Regions from separate parts of the Homo sapiens genome. Here region 2 is reported to be linked to region 1. The links are microRNA targets in miRTarBase. Many come from high-throughput screens and were not tested one by one. Region 1 holds a microRNA gene; the other region holds the end of a gene's coding sequence.

The links. Region 1 holds the annotated microRNA hsa-miR-196a-3p (CGGCAACAAGAAACUGCCUGAG, at 4,616-4,637, opposite strand). A microRNA usually pairs through its seed, bases 2 to 8, with sites in the 3' UTR of a target mRNA and lowers its output. Matches are read on the target gene's strand: a 7mer-m8 pairs with bases 2 to 8, a 7mer-A1 pairs with bases 2 to 7 and ends in A, and an 8mer does both.
Region 2: miRTarBase lists DOCK7 as a target of hsa-miR-196a-3p. The part of its 3' UTR that is shown has no 7-base or 8-base seed match.

What each region holds. Positions count from the first base shown.
Region 1 is chr12:53,989,322-53,996,435 of GRCh38, reverse strand. It overlaps MIR196A2 (microRNA 196a-2), which reads right to left and starts at 4,698; the gene lies at 4,589-4,698. It overlaps HOXC10 (homeobox C10), which reads right to left. Exons shown (of 2, transcript NM_017409.4): 2 at 6,157-7,114. The coding sequence ends at 6,990. HOXC-AS2 (HOXC cluster antisense RNA 2) reads left to right here. Exons shown (of 3, transcript NR_047505.1): 2 at 527-603; 3 at 918-1,228. RefSeq lists an enhancer at 651-1,219.
Region 2 is chr1:62,448,946-62,456,054 of GRCh38, reverse strand. It overlaps DOCK7 (dedicator of cytokinesis 7), which reads left to right. Exons shown (of 50, transcript NM_001367561.1): 50 at 599-1,329. The coding sequence ends at 641. USP1 (ubiquitin specific peptidase 1) reads right to left here. Exons shown (of 9, transcript NM_003368.5): 9 at 4,251-5,809. The coding sequence ends at 5,074. Among named protein-coding and RNA genes, the nearest start is that of USP1, 15 kb to the right of the region's middle.

The DNA of each region.
Region 1 (7,114 bases):
TCACTCTGGTTCTTAGAGTTCCCTCCCACCCCCAAAAGACTTCACTGGGCACAGGAGAGACCCCTGAGGGGGAGGGGCACCCTTACTCCATCACCTGAAACCTGGGCAGCTGCGGCCACAACCAAACTAGCACCGTGGGAAGGACAGACAGAAAGATAGACAGGTTAGAGTCGTCCCCTCCCCCTGCCCCGCGCCTTCCTTTTAGTGATTTAAATTCCCTCCGGTTCAATCCACACCGTCAAGTTCGGATTAAATTTAAAACAGGCTTTCTCCGGTGTCCCCAGCGGGCCATCCCGGCTGCCGCAGGCAGGGAGCCCGCTCCCGGCTCGTCAGCACCCGCCCTGCGCGGAGAAGGCCGTACTCCATTTGCTTTCATTTTCCTTCTCCCCCTGAAATGGGCTCATTTCACCTCTCCACTGCCCTCTTCCCCTCCCCGCCCCCTCCCTGGTTCCCCTCTACTTTCCCCCCTTCTCTCTCCTGATCCCTCTTTGTTGGGAAAAACACACCCACACACAACTCCTCCTAGCTAAGGCCTGCGCTGGAAGCAGAAACTGAGTTCTCTTGGCCTGCCGCGAGGAAACCCGCGTCCTGCCCCCACCCAAGGTGGGTATCTGGGATCCCTACACACCAGGAGTCAGGTCCCGAGGCCCAGCAGGAGTGAAATCCCCAGGGCCTGTGAACGTGGCTCTCTCAAAGCCACGGCCTGCCGGGCCTGCATTCCCGCCGGCGCCCCCGCCCTGACGCTCCGCAGCAAGCGGGGCTATTTCCGGCTCCCCCAACGCGGTCTGGTTTTCCAGCCTGGGAGTGGCTGGAGGGGGAGCCGCCCCAGAGCTAGAGCCGCTCCCTGCCCTGCCCGGAGCCCCAGTGGCCCTGAGCGCCTTGTTACCTGATCTTTTGTGTGATGTATGTGTCGCAAGGAAATTTGCAGTGACTTTGGAGCCCAGACTGAGGAAGCGGAGGTGGCGAAAGGAGAGACAATACGAGCCCGAAGTACAATTAAGGGGCCAGAGCCGCTCGTCTCTCCCCCGCCCTCCCTGCCCGACTGCGAGCTGTCTGGCCTCAAACCTCAGGGCGACACGCGAACCTGGAGCCGGAAACTCAGCCCGTGGCAGAGGGAGTCAGAGGACTCTGCATCCAGAAAACAGAAGCAAAGCGCCCTTCCAACTTGGGGACGCCTTAACCAGCCCCTCTCAGTTGCAGATAACCCAATGAATGAAAGTGCAAATTCCGCCGTTTTTCCCGATTTTTTTTCCAGCCTTGGGAAGGAGAGCTCAGGGTTTGGGGCGTCTCAGACAGAAAGGCAAACCGCATCTCCTGAGGCAGACAGACCCACAACATGAGTGTGAGCCTGAGATCACATACAGGTTCAACATTTCCCGAGGCCTCTTTGCCAGGCCCGGCGGGCGCCGATCTCCCTACCTTCTCTCCCTCCAGGGCCTCAGGCAGAGAGACCCAGAAGACTCTGTCCCTCTGGTTTGGTCCAATCCCGCTTCGGAAGCGCCTTCGTTACCTGGTCCTTCGCTCCCCACGGCCATAGATACAGGACAGGCGGCTCCCGCCTGGGGAGGGAAGCCCCGGCCACCACGGCCGCCGCCGCCCGCCCTCCTTCCCTCCCTCCCTCCTTCTCGCCCTCCCTCTCTCTCCCTCCCTCGCGCGCTGCCGCTCGCGGGGCCCTCCCGCGGGCAACCTGGTCTGGACCAAATCCAGGTATATCCGAAAGAGAGAAAAAAGAAAGGACCTTTTACGCGGAAAAGAAAAGACAGAAAGACCTTCCATTGCATTTATTTTTCATGCTGTGACCATTGGTCGGCCTCAGTTCAGACGTCCCGGACACGGCCCGGCAGCTGCAGAGGCGTGCAGGGCCTGCAGCCTCTCCCACGCTGACCGCCGCGCCCCGCGCGCCGCTTGCTCCACACTCTGGGCCGCCGCCCCCAGGGCAGCCCAAACACCCAGCAGACCTCAAGGTCCTTTCTATAGACTCAACATGCGGTTGCCCGCCTCGCCGCCGGCCACAGCCCGGGAGCCCGCTCTGCTCTGTCTGCGGCCAAAGTCCATACACAATCCACCTTGCCGGTGCTCTCGCACCCTGCCCGAACACCCCTTCTGGCCACGCAGCCGTCCGGGCCACACTCGTGCTGCGGTCCAGCCCAGGACTTCGAACCTCGCCCCCTGCACGACCCACACAAAGCCCTGAGCCCTGGCGTTCCCACCCGAAGCCCCCAGTCCCCGCTGCCGCCGTCTTCTTCACCTGTTCTCGGGAAGGGCTGCATCTCCGAGCCGAAGTCAGGCCGTGGGCCGGGGCGAGGTCCCAGAGAGGCCACAGCGGATCTGCCAGGCTGAGCCGGAGCCCCAGCAGCCGACGAGAGATCTCAGAGACCAAGGCTCGCCTTGGCGAGCTCTTGCCTTTTCTTCCTCCCGCAAGTCTCAAACATTCATACACTGAGAGTTCAGCTCTATAAATCCTGCTCCTCTTTCCCATATCATAATTAAAAAAAAAACAGTAGGGGAGGTTTTAACTTTTATTGCGATTTCTGGAGTTGGGCTGCGGAGCATATATTAAGTTTACGCTTATGCGCTCTCGGCGGGGAGGGTCCTTTAAGAAATAAAAATCCATCTTAATATCCACAGACGAGAGAGATAATTTTTTCTCTTCTCTTCACGCTGTTCCTTCTGAAGACTCCCTTCCGGCGAAGGGAATAAATAATTACCATCGCCTTAGCCATGATCCACGGCCTTGTGCCGGGGGTGGACTCTGACCACCAGACTGGTCCTCACCTTGGCCCTATGAGACCTCGCTCCATTTCTCTGCATTTGGGGAGGAGACACCTCAACCCCTGGCTCTCTGACCTCCCACACATAAGCCCAACAGCTCTGAAACGGAAATGGGGGCACAGAGACCCAAAGCACAGAAGTCGTTCATTAGTGAATTTCGGCCCATCAGGGACTCTATCTCCAAGCCAAATGCTCCTGAGCACCCAGTCCCTGCCTGGGACACGCTTTGCCCCAACTGACTGTGTGCCTGGGGCAGCCTGAAGACTCAAAGGCTGCTAGGAGCTCCCAAACTAGGGGAATCCCTTGCCTGCTTCCCACCAGCTGGCCTGACTCTCTGGAAACTTCCCCATTTCCCTGGGAGCCATAGAGAGGTTTGAATACTTCTCTCCAAGAGAAGAAATTTTTTCTCTCACAAAGGGATGGGGGACAGACAGACCAACAATCCAGCTAGGGAGACAGGAAATTCTATTCCCATTTTCTCCTCCAGCTTCCTTGGGAGTCAAAACAAATATGTTCGCATAAGAGAGGGGAAAAATAAATGTGTATGCGTATAAATACATACAGGGTATTTAAGAGAGCCTAGGGGAGACAGAAACAGAGCCCTACACTCATACAAGGTCACATATATCCCTCCCAGCAGATGACTGTGAGAATATAGAACTCTGTATATATTTTGTTACAGGGACATAATTTTGTTTCCCTGTCTAGACGTTTATAATGTTTTAATAATCATAATAATTTCAAAGTAAGAGAACCAAGAACCTGACCTTCTTTTGGCTTCTCTTCCCCAGTATCTCTGAGAACAGGGGTGTATCTCCTCAGTCTCCATAACCCCTCCCCCATTTATTCCCCCCCCCCCAACTCCGCCCGCAGGCAGGCAAAGAAACCTCTTTTGAGAACTTTCTCTGTAGCAACCAGGGCCAGAATTGAAGAACCAAGGGGGAAAGGATGAGAGGAAGCTTTGCAAAGTTTCACACTGCTCAGATTTTCCTCTACCCCATTCTCCTCCCCTCCTCCCCCTGGCATCAGCCAACAACCTTTCCACCAACATAGCAATGGTGGGCACGGGCAGCCTCTGTTCACCCAGATGTTTCCACATAGTGCAAAGACAGGCAGCTGCCTGACAGTCACAGCCACAGAAACTGAGGCCTTCAGGCCACAGACGACTAAACAGAGACCAGAGTCAGGTTTTTGCCCTGATGTTTCCCAGTTGCGTGCGTGTGCGTGTGTGAGGGGTTCTACTTGGACTTTGATGGCTTTCCTCTAACCTACCAACACCCCAAACATGTCCTTCCCCTGGAGATGGAGCTATAGAAGGGGAAGGGGAAAGGGCTGGGCTGGCGCTCAGAGTTCCCCAACTCTTGGAACCTCCAGGTACCCCACTTTTCTAAGGAGAATCTTGAGCCCCAGTCGACTGGAGGTGGTAGGTGGGAGAGGCTAACCATTCCAGAGACCGTCTTCTCTTTCTGTGCTCCTCTTTCTGCTAATAATTCTGCCCCACCCTGCTGCCCAACTGAGCTGGCCCGCCAGGCCACCTCTTACTCAAACTCCTGAATTTCCTTGGAATTGGCTGGACCCTCTTTGTCTGTCTCCATCAGCTGGGCCCAGGAGACAATAGCTGCAGGAAAGACTCCTCTCCCTTAATCACAGGGATTGGGATAGGTTGAGAGGACGGCATAAAGCAGGGTTCTCCAGACTTGTTCTGCAACCCCACTCACAGCTTGTCCTCCTTGGTCTGCACCCACTTTGCCCTATCTGGGAGGGGGCAGTGGGGCAGTCCCACTGGGGAGGGTAGGAGTGGGAGAGGTGGGTTGGGGCCCTCGACGAAAACCGACTGATGTAACTCAGGCAGTTTCTTGTTGCCGAGTTCAAAACTCAATCCCAACAACATGAAACTACCTAAGCCACAGATCAGCTGAGCGAGCAGGGCGGGAGATTCAGCTTTGCATCTATCTGGAGGAGAAGGGAAGGGGGTTGGGGAAGGAAGAAATTCAGCCCCGTCCCCCTTTCCGCCCCCACAACCTCCCTAAGGACTAGAGAGTAGACTTTGGGTTGCTGGGTGGGTAAGGGGTCTGACTGCCTTCATTAGTTTCTGGTCTAAGCAAATTGCTCAGGAAAAATCTGGTGAAATGGGACCACTGGCGGCCAAATACCTGCCCCACCCCCAGCACCGCAGTGGAGCTATTCCCCTGCATCTGGCCCTGGCCCTGGGGGAAGCTGGATCTTCCTTCCACTCTGGAGCTGGGTCCCCTGTCTTGTCCATCTGGCTCTCCTGCACTCTCCTGCTAGACTCCCTCTGATCCTCTCCCTCTCAGCTCGGTTTAGGCTTCTCAGCGAATGTGGGTAGCTGAATCATAGCCCTGTGCTCTGGAGCCACTTCCAATCAGGCCACTTGCCTGGCAAAACGTTACAGCCAGGGAGCACAGGGAACAAGAGGCTGGACGAGGCTCACATCCAAACCAGCGAAAAGCAGGAAAACCTAAGCTTCAAGCTTCAACCCTCTGTACTCCTCCTCCCCCACCAACAGACGACCAGACTGAGCAACACCTAGACCAGAGTGTCGACTTCGAGGAGACCCAAAGTGCCCGAAAAGATAAAGAAGCCAAAAACCATCAATTTATCCCTTTAACTGTGGAACCCCCATGGCAATGGGCCCGGGAGGGAAGGAGAGGGAGCTCCCAGTCGCTGCCCTCCGCTGCCAGCGGCCACTAGGAAAGCCTGGGTTCTCGGCAAGCACGGATGCCCTAAACACCTTCCTCCAGGCTCTGTCCGCTGCACGCCGGACACCTGGGGACACCGCTCATCCCCACTCCGCCGCCAAGAGAAGAACAAGAAACCGCTTCTCTTACCTTGTCGCTGCCTCCTCCTCCTGCTGCTCCTGGCGTTTCTGTTAGCTGCTGTCGAGGTTGGGGGGGCTGAGCTCCTCATGCCCCTCCAGCGGTTAAGTTTATTCCTTTCCTTGGATGGGTGGGGGGCTCTTGGGGTGACCCCCAGCAGCAGTGGGGTGCGCCCAGCCCAGCACCCCAGGCAATCAGATCCGTCTGCTCCTCAAGATTGCAGCTTGCTCTCTGCCTCTTTCCCTCCTCCAGTCACCTTTAAATGCATCTTTTACTGCAGCACCACATTATATTTGCAGATCATAAAATCCACCTCTCGCGCGCACCAAGACCGTCCTGACATTACTGTTTTATGACCTTGACTTATTGTGGTCACCTGGATAATATTTAAATCAACGTTATGGTCTCTCACTTACATTAAACCCGCCAAGAGACGTTCTAGAAAGGCTCTAGGAGATGAGTCAAACACAAAACACACACATCCACACACTCAGCCTCTTCGGGGGAGGGGTGTTGCTAAAAATCACTAAAAACAAAAAACCATCCATTTGAGGATTATGATTCTGGAAATTTATTAGGTTTTTTTTTCTCCATTAAGGAAGCTACATGCAAAAGATACAACATACAGAATATCTTTAAATAACACAACTCCCAGACAGGGACAGGACAATATTTGGGGGGGGGGGCATTCTGTCTTTGCTTTGCTATGTTCTATTTTTAATTTTTTTGTTCCTCTGGATGAAATTTCTGAGATGTTACTAGATGGGGGATGTGGGGGTGCTAGGAGGGGTGGGAGAAAAGCAGAAAGCAGTACAAATACGAGACTTCAAGCAGATTCTTAGAGCGACTGGGAGGTAAAGACATGGAGAGGGTTTGGTGGAGGCTCTGGGTGCTACGACAAACACACGAACACTAGCCGAACTTTCCAAAACGTCTATTAGTCTAAGGAGGAAATGCAGCAAGGAAGGAACGATTCTGCCTGTGCTCTGCGAGATTACAGACCCTCTCTGGTTAATTTTTTTCCTTTTTTTCCCCTACAAGCGGATGGATTCGATCTTAACTTTGCATGGAGAACAGAATGCTGTGTGTGAGTGCGTGGGTGAGTGAGGGCTTGACACACACACCAGCCACACTCCCACCCCCATCTATGAGGGCACACACCACACCCCACATCCCGGCACCCCATTTCTCATGCTTTAAGTGGAAGCATCTTCGCAGCACGAACCACAGGTCCCTTGGAAGGAGAGTCTGAGGTCTTTGCCTTTTTTGCAGTCGCATTGCATTTATACTCAGGGAGGAAAAAAAAATATATCACCAGGCACAAAGGGAGGAGGGGCGGGGAGAGGAAGGAGCGGGAAGGGAGGAGGAGAGGCCGCGCTCTCAGGTGAAATTAAAATTGGAGGTCAGTTCCCGGATCCGATTCTCTCGGTTCATTTTCTTGAGTTTCATTCTGCGATTTTGAAACCAGATTTTGACTTGTCTGTCTGTAAGGTTAATGGTCTTGC
Region 2 (7,109 bases), not on the chromosome of region 1:
AGGCATTAAGCCACACTCCTACATGAGTACCACTCTCCTAAAGCTTCTTGCAGATCATTTTTAATAAGCAATGCTATTTATAGTAACATGTAATGGGTTATTTTATAGTAACTTAAGATGTTCTTAGTTTTAATTTCTGATATGATAAACATCCATATATAGCCCACATAAAAGATTCCTGGGGTTCTCAATAATTTTTAAGAGTGTAAAAGGGACCTGAGACAAAGTTTGAGAACTGGTTTAAGACTTAAAATTTAATAAACACCTGCCTTTTGCCGTGTAAAAAACCCCAAATCTTTTCCTAAAATCTCTCCCATTATCCCTTAAGTCCTTGTCTTGTTTATTACAATATCTGCAGCATCAGTCAGACAAACGAATACAAAAGACCAGTAAGTGGTGACTGTAATACACTTCTATAGCTAAATCTATAAGCCAAAATATAAGGCAGAGTAGGTAGGATGAGCATCCAACTTGGAAGTTAGTAAGAAATGGTGGCAAAACTTTAAGGTAACTGGCAGAAAAAACCATGTAAGACATTTAAAGGTATATGCAAAAATTGTTCTCTTTAACTAACTATGTCCTCTCATTTTTTTCCCAGAGATTCCTTCAGTCGAATGAGCCTTCGCAAAATGGATCTCTAAACTGAATGCACTTGTTTTATTCATCTGCAAAGAGCCATGTATTCAACATCGAGTGTGAAAAGATCTATTGGAAAACAACATGGAATGGAATTCTGGAAATTATTATTCATTGAAGAATGCAGTGGCCAAGAAAATATCAAATGTAGATTGTTAACGCTTGAGAATCATGGCTATGGTTTCTAATGTTCTGGTAACAAGCTGTTATCTTTTAAGACATTTTAATGACTCAAAGGTACACTATACATTTACCATTATTTATACCATAGCTAAGGTTAAAAATTTATTCACTTTAAGTTCGTATTTTTTAATTTATATTACCATTTATAGATTCATTTTGGAACCATTTTAAATGTAGTAATGCTTATTTTAAAGGTACTATTAAATATGTGAATGTTTACACTAATTTTACCGAGTGGGACTTCAAAATTTTTATTATTGACAATGGCAGAGAACAATTAAAGGGTTGACTCAAGAACTAGTTCCAAACCTAGCAGAATAAAAATCATAGATAGCCCCAAATTAATGAGTTTGGTAACTGTTTCAAAGTTATTTTCCATTTACATACCCAAAACAGGAATTTAGAATTGCAGAACTTTACTTAGTAAAACCTTTGTGTAAAATAATTTAAATACGGGGATAACTAATACCAGTGACAACACCTTAACTTGATTAAATCTTATTACACCAATGATAGTAGTAAGAACTTCATGATTCTTAGCAACTAAAATGAATGATTTCTCTGTTTCAAATTAAAACCAGCCATCAGTTTTTGACGATGTAAACCAGTAAATTAGAATCTACTTAAAGCTATCTTGTAGCACCATGAAGGTAACACAGCTGGAGTTTGAGAAATTACCTATTTTCTGACACTTGTAAAGTTTAGAAGCATATAAAAAGTAAAATTAGGTGCTTTAATTCATCTAAAATTATATGCAAGTCATACAGAAAAAAAATTTGAGAAGTAACATTTTAATTCTTGGCAAGTTTTTCCAAAACGATGCATAGTAATGATTTCCAGAACAGTTTAGAACAATGGTTTTTGGGTAGTAGTGCAGTTTACAGAATGGCATCATTTATAATCCTTTTCTTCTACTGACCAGTTACATGAATCACTTAAGAACTAACCAGATCTGGGTGCGGTGGCTCACATCTGTAATCCCAACACTTTGGGAGGCCGAGGCGGGTGGATCACGAAGTCAGGAGTTCAAGACCAGCCTGGCCAAGATGGTGAAAACCCGTCTCTACTAAAAATACAGAAATTAATTAGCCAGGCACAGTGGCAGGAGCCTGTAATCCCAGCTACTTGGGAGACTGAAGCAGGAGAATCGCTTGAACCCGGGCAGCAGAGGTTGGAGTGAGCAGAGATGGAGCCACTGCAACTCTAGCCTGGGCGACAGAGACTCCGTCTCAAAAAAAAAAAAAAAAAAAAAACTATCATCTGTACACACACGCACACACACATACATACATACACACACATATATATAAAAGAACTGATCAGATTGGCTGGGTGCAGTGGCTCAGGCCTATAATCCCAGCACTCTGGGAGGCAGGGGCAGGCGGATCATGAGGCCAGGAGTTCAAGAACAGCCTGGTCAATATGGTGAAACCCCATCTCTACCAAAAACACAAAAATCAGCCAGGTGTAGTAGCCCGTGCCTGTAATCCGAACTACTTGGGTGGCTGAGGCATGAGAATCACTGGAACCTGGAAAGTGGAGGTTGCAGCGAGCCAAAATGGCGCCACTGCACTTCAGCCTGGGCGACAGAGCAAGACTCTTAAGTCAAAAACAAAAACCAGCACTTTGGGAGGCCGAGGCAGACAGATCACGAGGTCAGGAGATTGAGACCATCCTGGCTAACAGTCAAACCCCGTCTCTACTAAAAATACAAAAAATTAGCCAGGCGAGGGGGCAGGAGCCTGTAGTCCCAGCTACTCGGGAGGCTGAGGCAGGAGAATGGCGTGAACCCGGGAGGCGGAGCTTGCAGTGAGCTGAGATCACGCCACTGCACTCCAGCCTGGGTGACAGAGCTAGACTCCGTTTCAAAAAAAAAAAACAAAAACTGGTCAGATTTAACGTATTGCCTTCATTCTATAGTCAATGTAGTAAATATTCAAAATATACTAAAAAATATCTACTTCTGAGAGCCTAAGTGATGGTTGATATCCCACACTCCATGTACTTTAATGGGCAGTATCATCTCAAATTCCTCTTATCTATATCAATTCAAAGACTGAATCACAAAAACATTTTTCAGATGAGTCTACATTGTTAGACCAAATCTGAGTCAGAAGGGCATAACCTCAAAACTCTATTTGAGGAGCCAAATGAACAATAAGGAAAGGTAAGGAGTCAAGAATGGAAATCCCTCCCCTCCAAAAAAAGTGACATTTTCCCTTCTTCTTTGGGGGTCAGTGGTGGGTATAAACATAAGGGAGAGAATAAGGAACCACTGAAGGGTCACTTCTCATTAGGTTACATTTATATAACAGTTTGGACAAAAATCTCAGAAATCTCAGTAATATCAAGGACTTTATGATTTATATAATTATGCAAAACCAATTATTTTCTGACATCCTTCAGAACAGAGGCTTCCTCTTAAACATTCGTATGATACAAACCTCTTACAAACTTCATTTTTCTTAAAATGGAACTTTCTCACATCAGGAATTTGTGTTAGTTCTTAGAACTGGCTGTCTCTCGAGTATTAAGAGGCCCAGTGTCTATCTTAGACCCATTCCATTCAAAACTTACAGGTAGCGCTCAGGACTGTTTAAGGATTTCCATTAGTGATTCTGAAAGGTGGGGAGAACCATGACTTTATTACCATCTCATCATCCTATGAAAGAATATAAGACATTATGTAACTGTGTTTTTTTTTTTTTGAGACGGAGTCTCACTCTGTTGCCCAGGCTGGAGTGCAGTGGCGCAATCTCGGCTCACTGCAAGCTCCGCCTCCTGGGTTCATGCCATTCTCCTGCCTCCGCCTCCTGAGTAGCTGGGACTACAGATGCCTGCCACCACGCCCGGCTAATTTTTTGTATTTTTAGTAGAGACGGGATTTCATGTGTTAGCCAGGATGATCTCGATCTCCTGACCTCGTGATCCACCAGCCTCAGCCTCCCAATGTGCTGGGATTACAGGCGTGAGCCACCGCGCCCAGCCTACTGCGATTTTTTTTTAATTGAGAAGGTACTCCTTGTTGAAATGGGGTATTAAAGTGTTACCCCAATAGCATTTACATATTTAGAATCATTTCTAGGAAAAACTTAGTACCAAGAATGTCCATTAACAAGTCATGAAATCATTCATCACTTACCACTTCAGTATACTAGTTTAAAATGAAATTTTAACCAAGTTTTTATGTGTGCCCAAAGCATCATCTTAACTTTTCCAGTTTTGGATTCCATTAAATCATGTCTACTTTAAAGGACAATTAGATGCAACAGATTTCATTATAAACCTCTTTTAAGTATGACAGCTTGGCTGGACTAAGCACAATTTCTCCTCTTTGAAAAACTCCTGCACTGTCAGAAAGTATTCAGTAATAAAGGTAATTATGCATGCTTATTCTCTCATATATATACATATATATATACACACACTTATTCGCTTTAAGAAAACTCAGCTGTATTTATAAAAATATACAAGTAAAAAATTCAAATATTCATATACATAGTTAAGCAGTTTAAATTTTATTGACCTCCCAGTTTTTAAAAAAAGTTAAATTTAAGGTCACACCTCTAAGTTTGATGTACTATATACAGATCGTGCAGAATATGAGTTAAACAGATACAAATTAGTCCATGCCCAAAAAGATATACTAGGGTACAGAATCATCTTCATAAATACATATAAAATTCTTGTGTAGAAGCGAACTGTCCAGGTTTTCTGAGACACTTCTAAGTGAATCAAGGCACAAAATGTACATACACCATTGTGAATACACACATTCTAGACTTTGTGCCTCTGACATAGCCCAAGGATTTAGCTTCATGACTCTTATAAAACTAAATGTACTGAATGAGATTCTGCTTCTTGGGTGAAAAACCACAGGAACTATAAACATCATGTAGATAATTACTCCAAAATATGGAGAATACAAATACGAGCACTTTATTTTAAAAAGCAAACACAAAAGACTGGTGTAAATCCAAGTGTTTAAATGCCTCCGTTTTGGATAATTTAATTAAGAACCGATACAAGTTTGTTCCCAGAAGCTAATGCATCACTAGTCTCTACTGAGGAAAATGAGTTCTAAAAATTAACATGGTTTTCAGTAATTCAAATTTCACTATTTATATAAAAACCTAGAGAGACCAATAATATCCAGTAGCTTCAAAAGATAAGCTAAAGATTCTTTGATGTAATCAACTTTACCAATGTTTGTATGGGTGTGTTTAATATATACACAAGGAAAATACACTCACTCTATAATTTCTTATAAAATAGCAAGTAAGGAGTAGAAGTAGGAGATGTAGAAGGGGAAAGAGAATTCAGAAAGTCCTTCTCTTCAGTAACTTTGACTTCAGAATCATCAAAAAGCAACCACTTCCCCTCATACTCCTTTAAGCTTTGCACTACGTATGAAATTTTGTTCTCAAATCCACTAATATTAATGCCTGTTTGGTCACTGGATTCCTTGTTTCTATCAGATTCATGGGTCCCAGTAGTATCACTAGTCTCAGAATTTCTATTTTCAGCAAACGCTGTACTAGCAACCTTATCAGGATTAGAGGCTTTGTTGTATAGCTCATAATCTGCTTTGCTCTTTTGTCCTCCAAGAAGTCCAATAGCTTCTACATTTTTTTTGTTCAAAACTTTACTTGGCTGTGTATTTCCACCAACTCTAATTGACACTTCTTCATCATTATAATTCTCAACCACACCCCTTGCTTCCTCCTCATTCAATGGTTCTGGCTTACCTATTTCACACATTTGGTCAACCACAAAATTTCCTTTATCTAGTTCTAAACTGTTAAGGTCAGTGACTTTAACAGAAGCAGTGTAATGCCCACTACTAATTGTAATGCCACTATGCATCACAACCGCAAATAATCCATAGCTGTCGTTAGTTGGCTTTGTGCTCCATTCTTCTAGTGACAATTTAAGAGGTGTCAATAAAGGAGTGTTGATCTTGGAAAGTCCACCACCATAACAATCAAACCTTTGGGAGGAAAAAAAGAAAAGGTTTCCTGCAGTTCTATTTTAAATTCAAAATGTTATACCCCAATCTGAAACCAAGTAAAAATCTGAATGAACCCTTAATATCCAGTGTTCATATATCAGAAAAGCAGAATCAAAACAAGACCCCAACTTTGAATAATATTTATAATATATGCAGAAACAAAAAAATAAATAACTGCTAATATTCAGGCATTTCTGTGGAAGAAATAATTGTATTTTTTCCTTTATTTTCCTAATTTTGTGCAGTTAAGAAAATAAATGGTATTTTAAATAGACTGAACCGGAACCAAAAATGTTACGTTTTGGGTTTTTTTTTTTTTAAGGCAGGGTCTGTCACCCAGGCTGACTGCAGTGGTGCAATCATGGCTCCTTCTGGACTCAAGTGATCCTCCCACCTCAGGCTCCTCCTCCTCAGCCTCCTGAGTAGTTGGGACCACAAGTGCCCGCCACCACGCCAAACTAGTTTGTGTATTTTTTGTAGAGATAGGGTTTTGTCATGTTGCCCAGGCTGGTCTTGAACTCCTGGGTGCAAGCCATCCATCTCAGCCTCCCAAAGTGCTAGGATTACAGGTGTGAGCCACCCACGCCCAGCCCATTTTAGTCATTTTTAGTGTGAAGTTTTTCTCTACCAAAATTTGGGAAAGTAAATAAAATAGTATTTTATACTATTAGCAAAGGGAAGGTCCACTGAATAAGGGGCTATATGTTATCTTTTGACATAATCAAGTGTGAGAGAGCTACTGTGAAGCCCTCGTGGTAATTTCAAACAAGCAACTAATGTACAAAGGAGTCACACATACAATGACATTACACATGTCAGAAAAAAACAGACTATCCAAAACAATCAGCATTTTTTTTCAAACTGTTGAAAGACTAGTTTGATTTCCTGGCTTACCTTAAAACTAGGAAGAATTTAGCCTTTCCCGCCCCTTCAAAAAAATCTTGATGTATACAAAATTTGTTCCCTGCTTTAGTCAGTTCTACTGAATTCTGCTACTAACATCTAAGAGGGAATGAATATGAAAAGATGAATAAAGAAACTGGCCGGGCATGGTGGCTCACGCCTGTAATCCCAGCACTTTGTGAGGCTAAGGCAGGTGGATTGCTTGAGTCCAGAAGTTCAAGATCAGACTGGGCAACATGGTGAAATCCTGTCTCTACTAAAAATACAAAAAATTAGCTGGGCATGGTGGCATGCACCTGTAGTCCCAGCTACTCAGAAGGCTGAGGTGGGAGAACCACCTGAGCCTGGGAGGTCAAGACTGCAGTGAGCTGAGGCT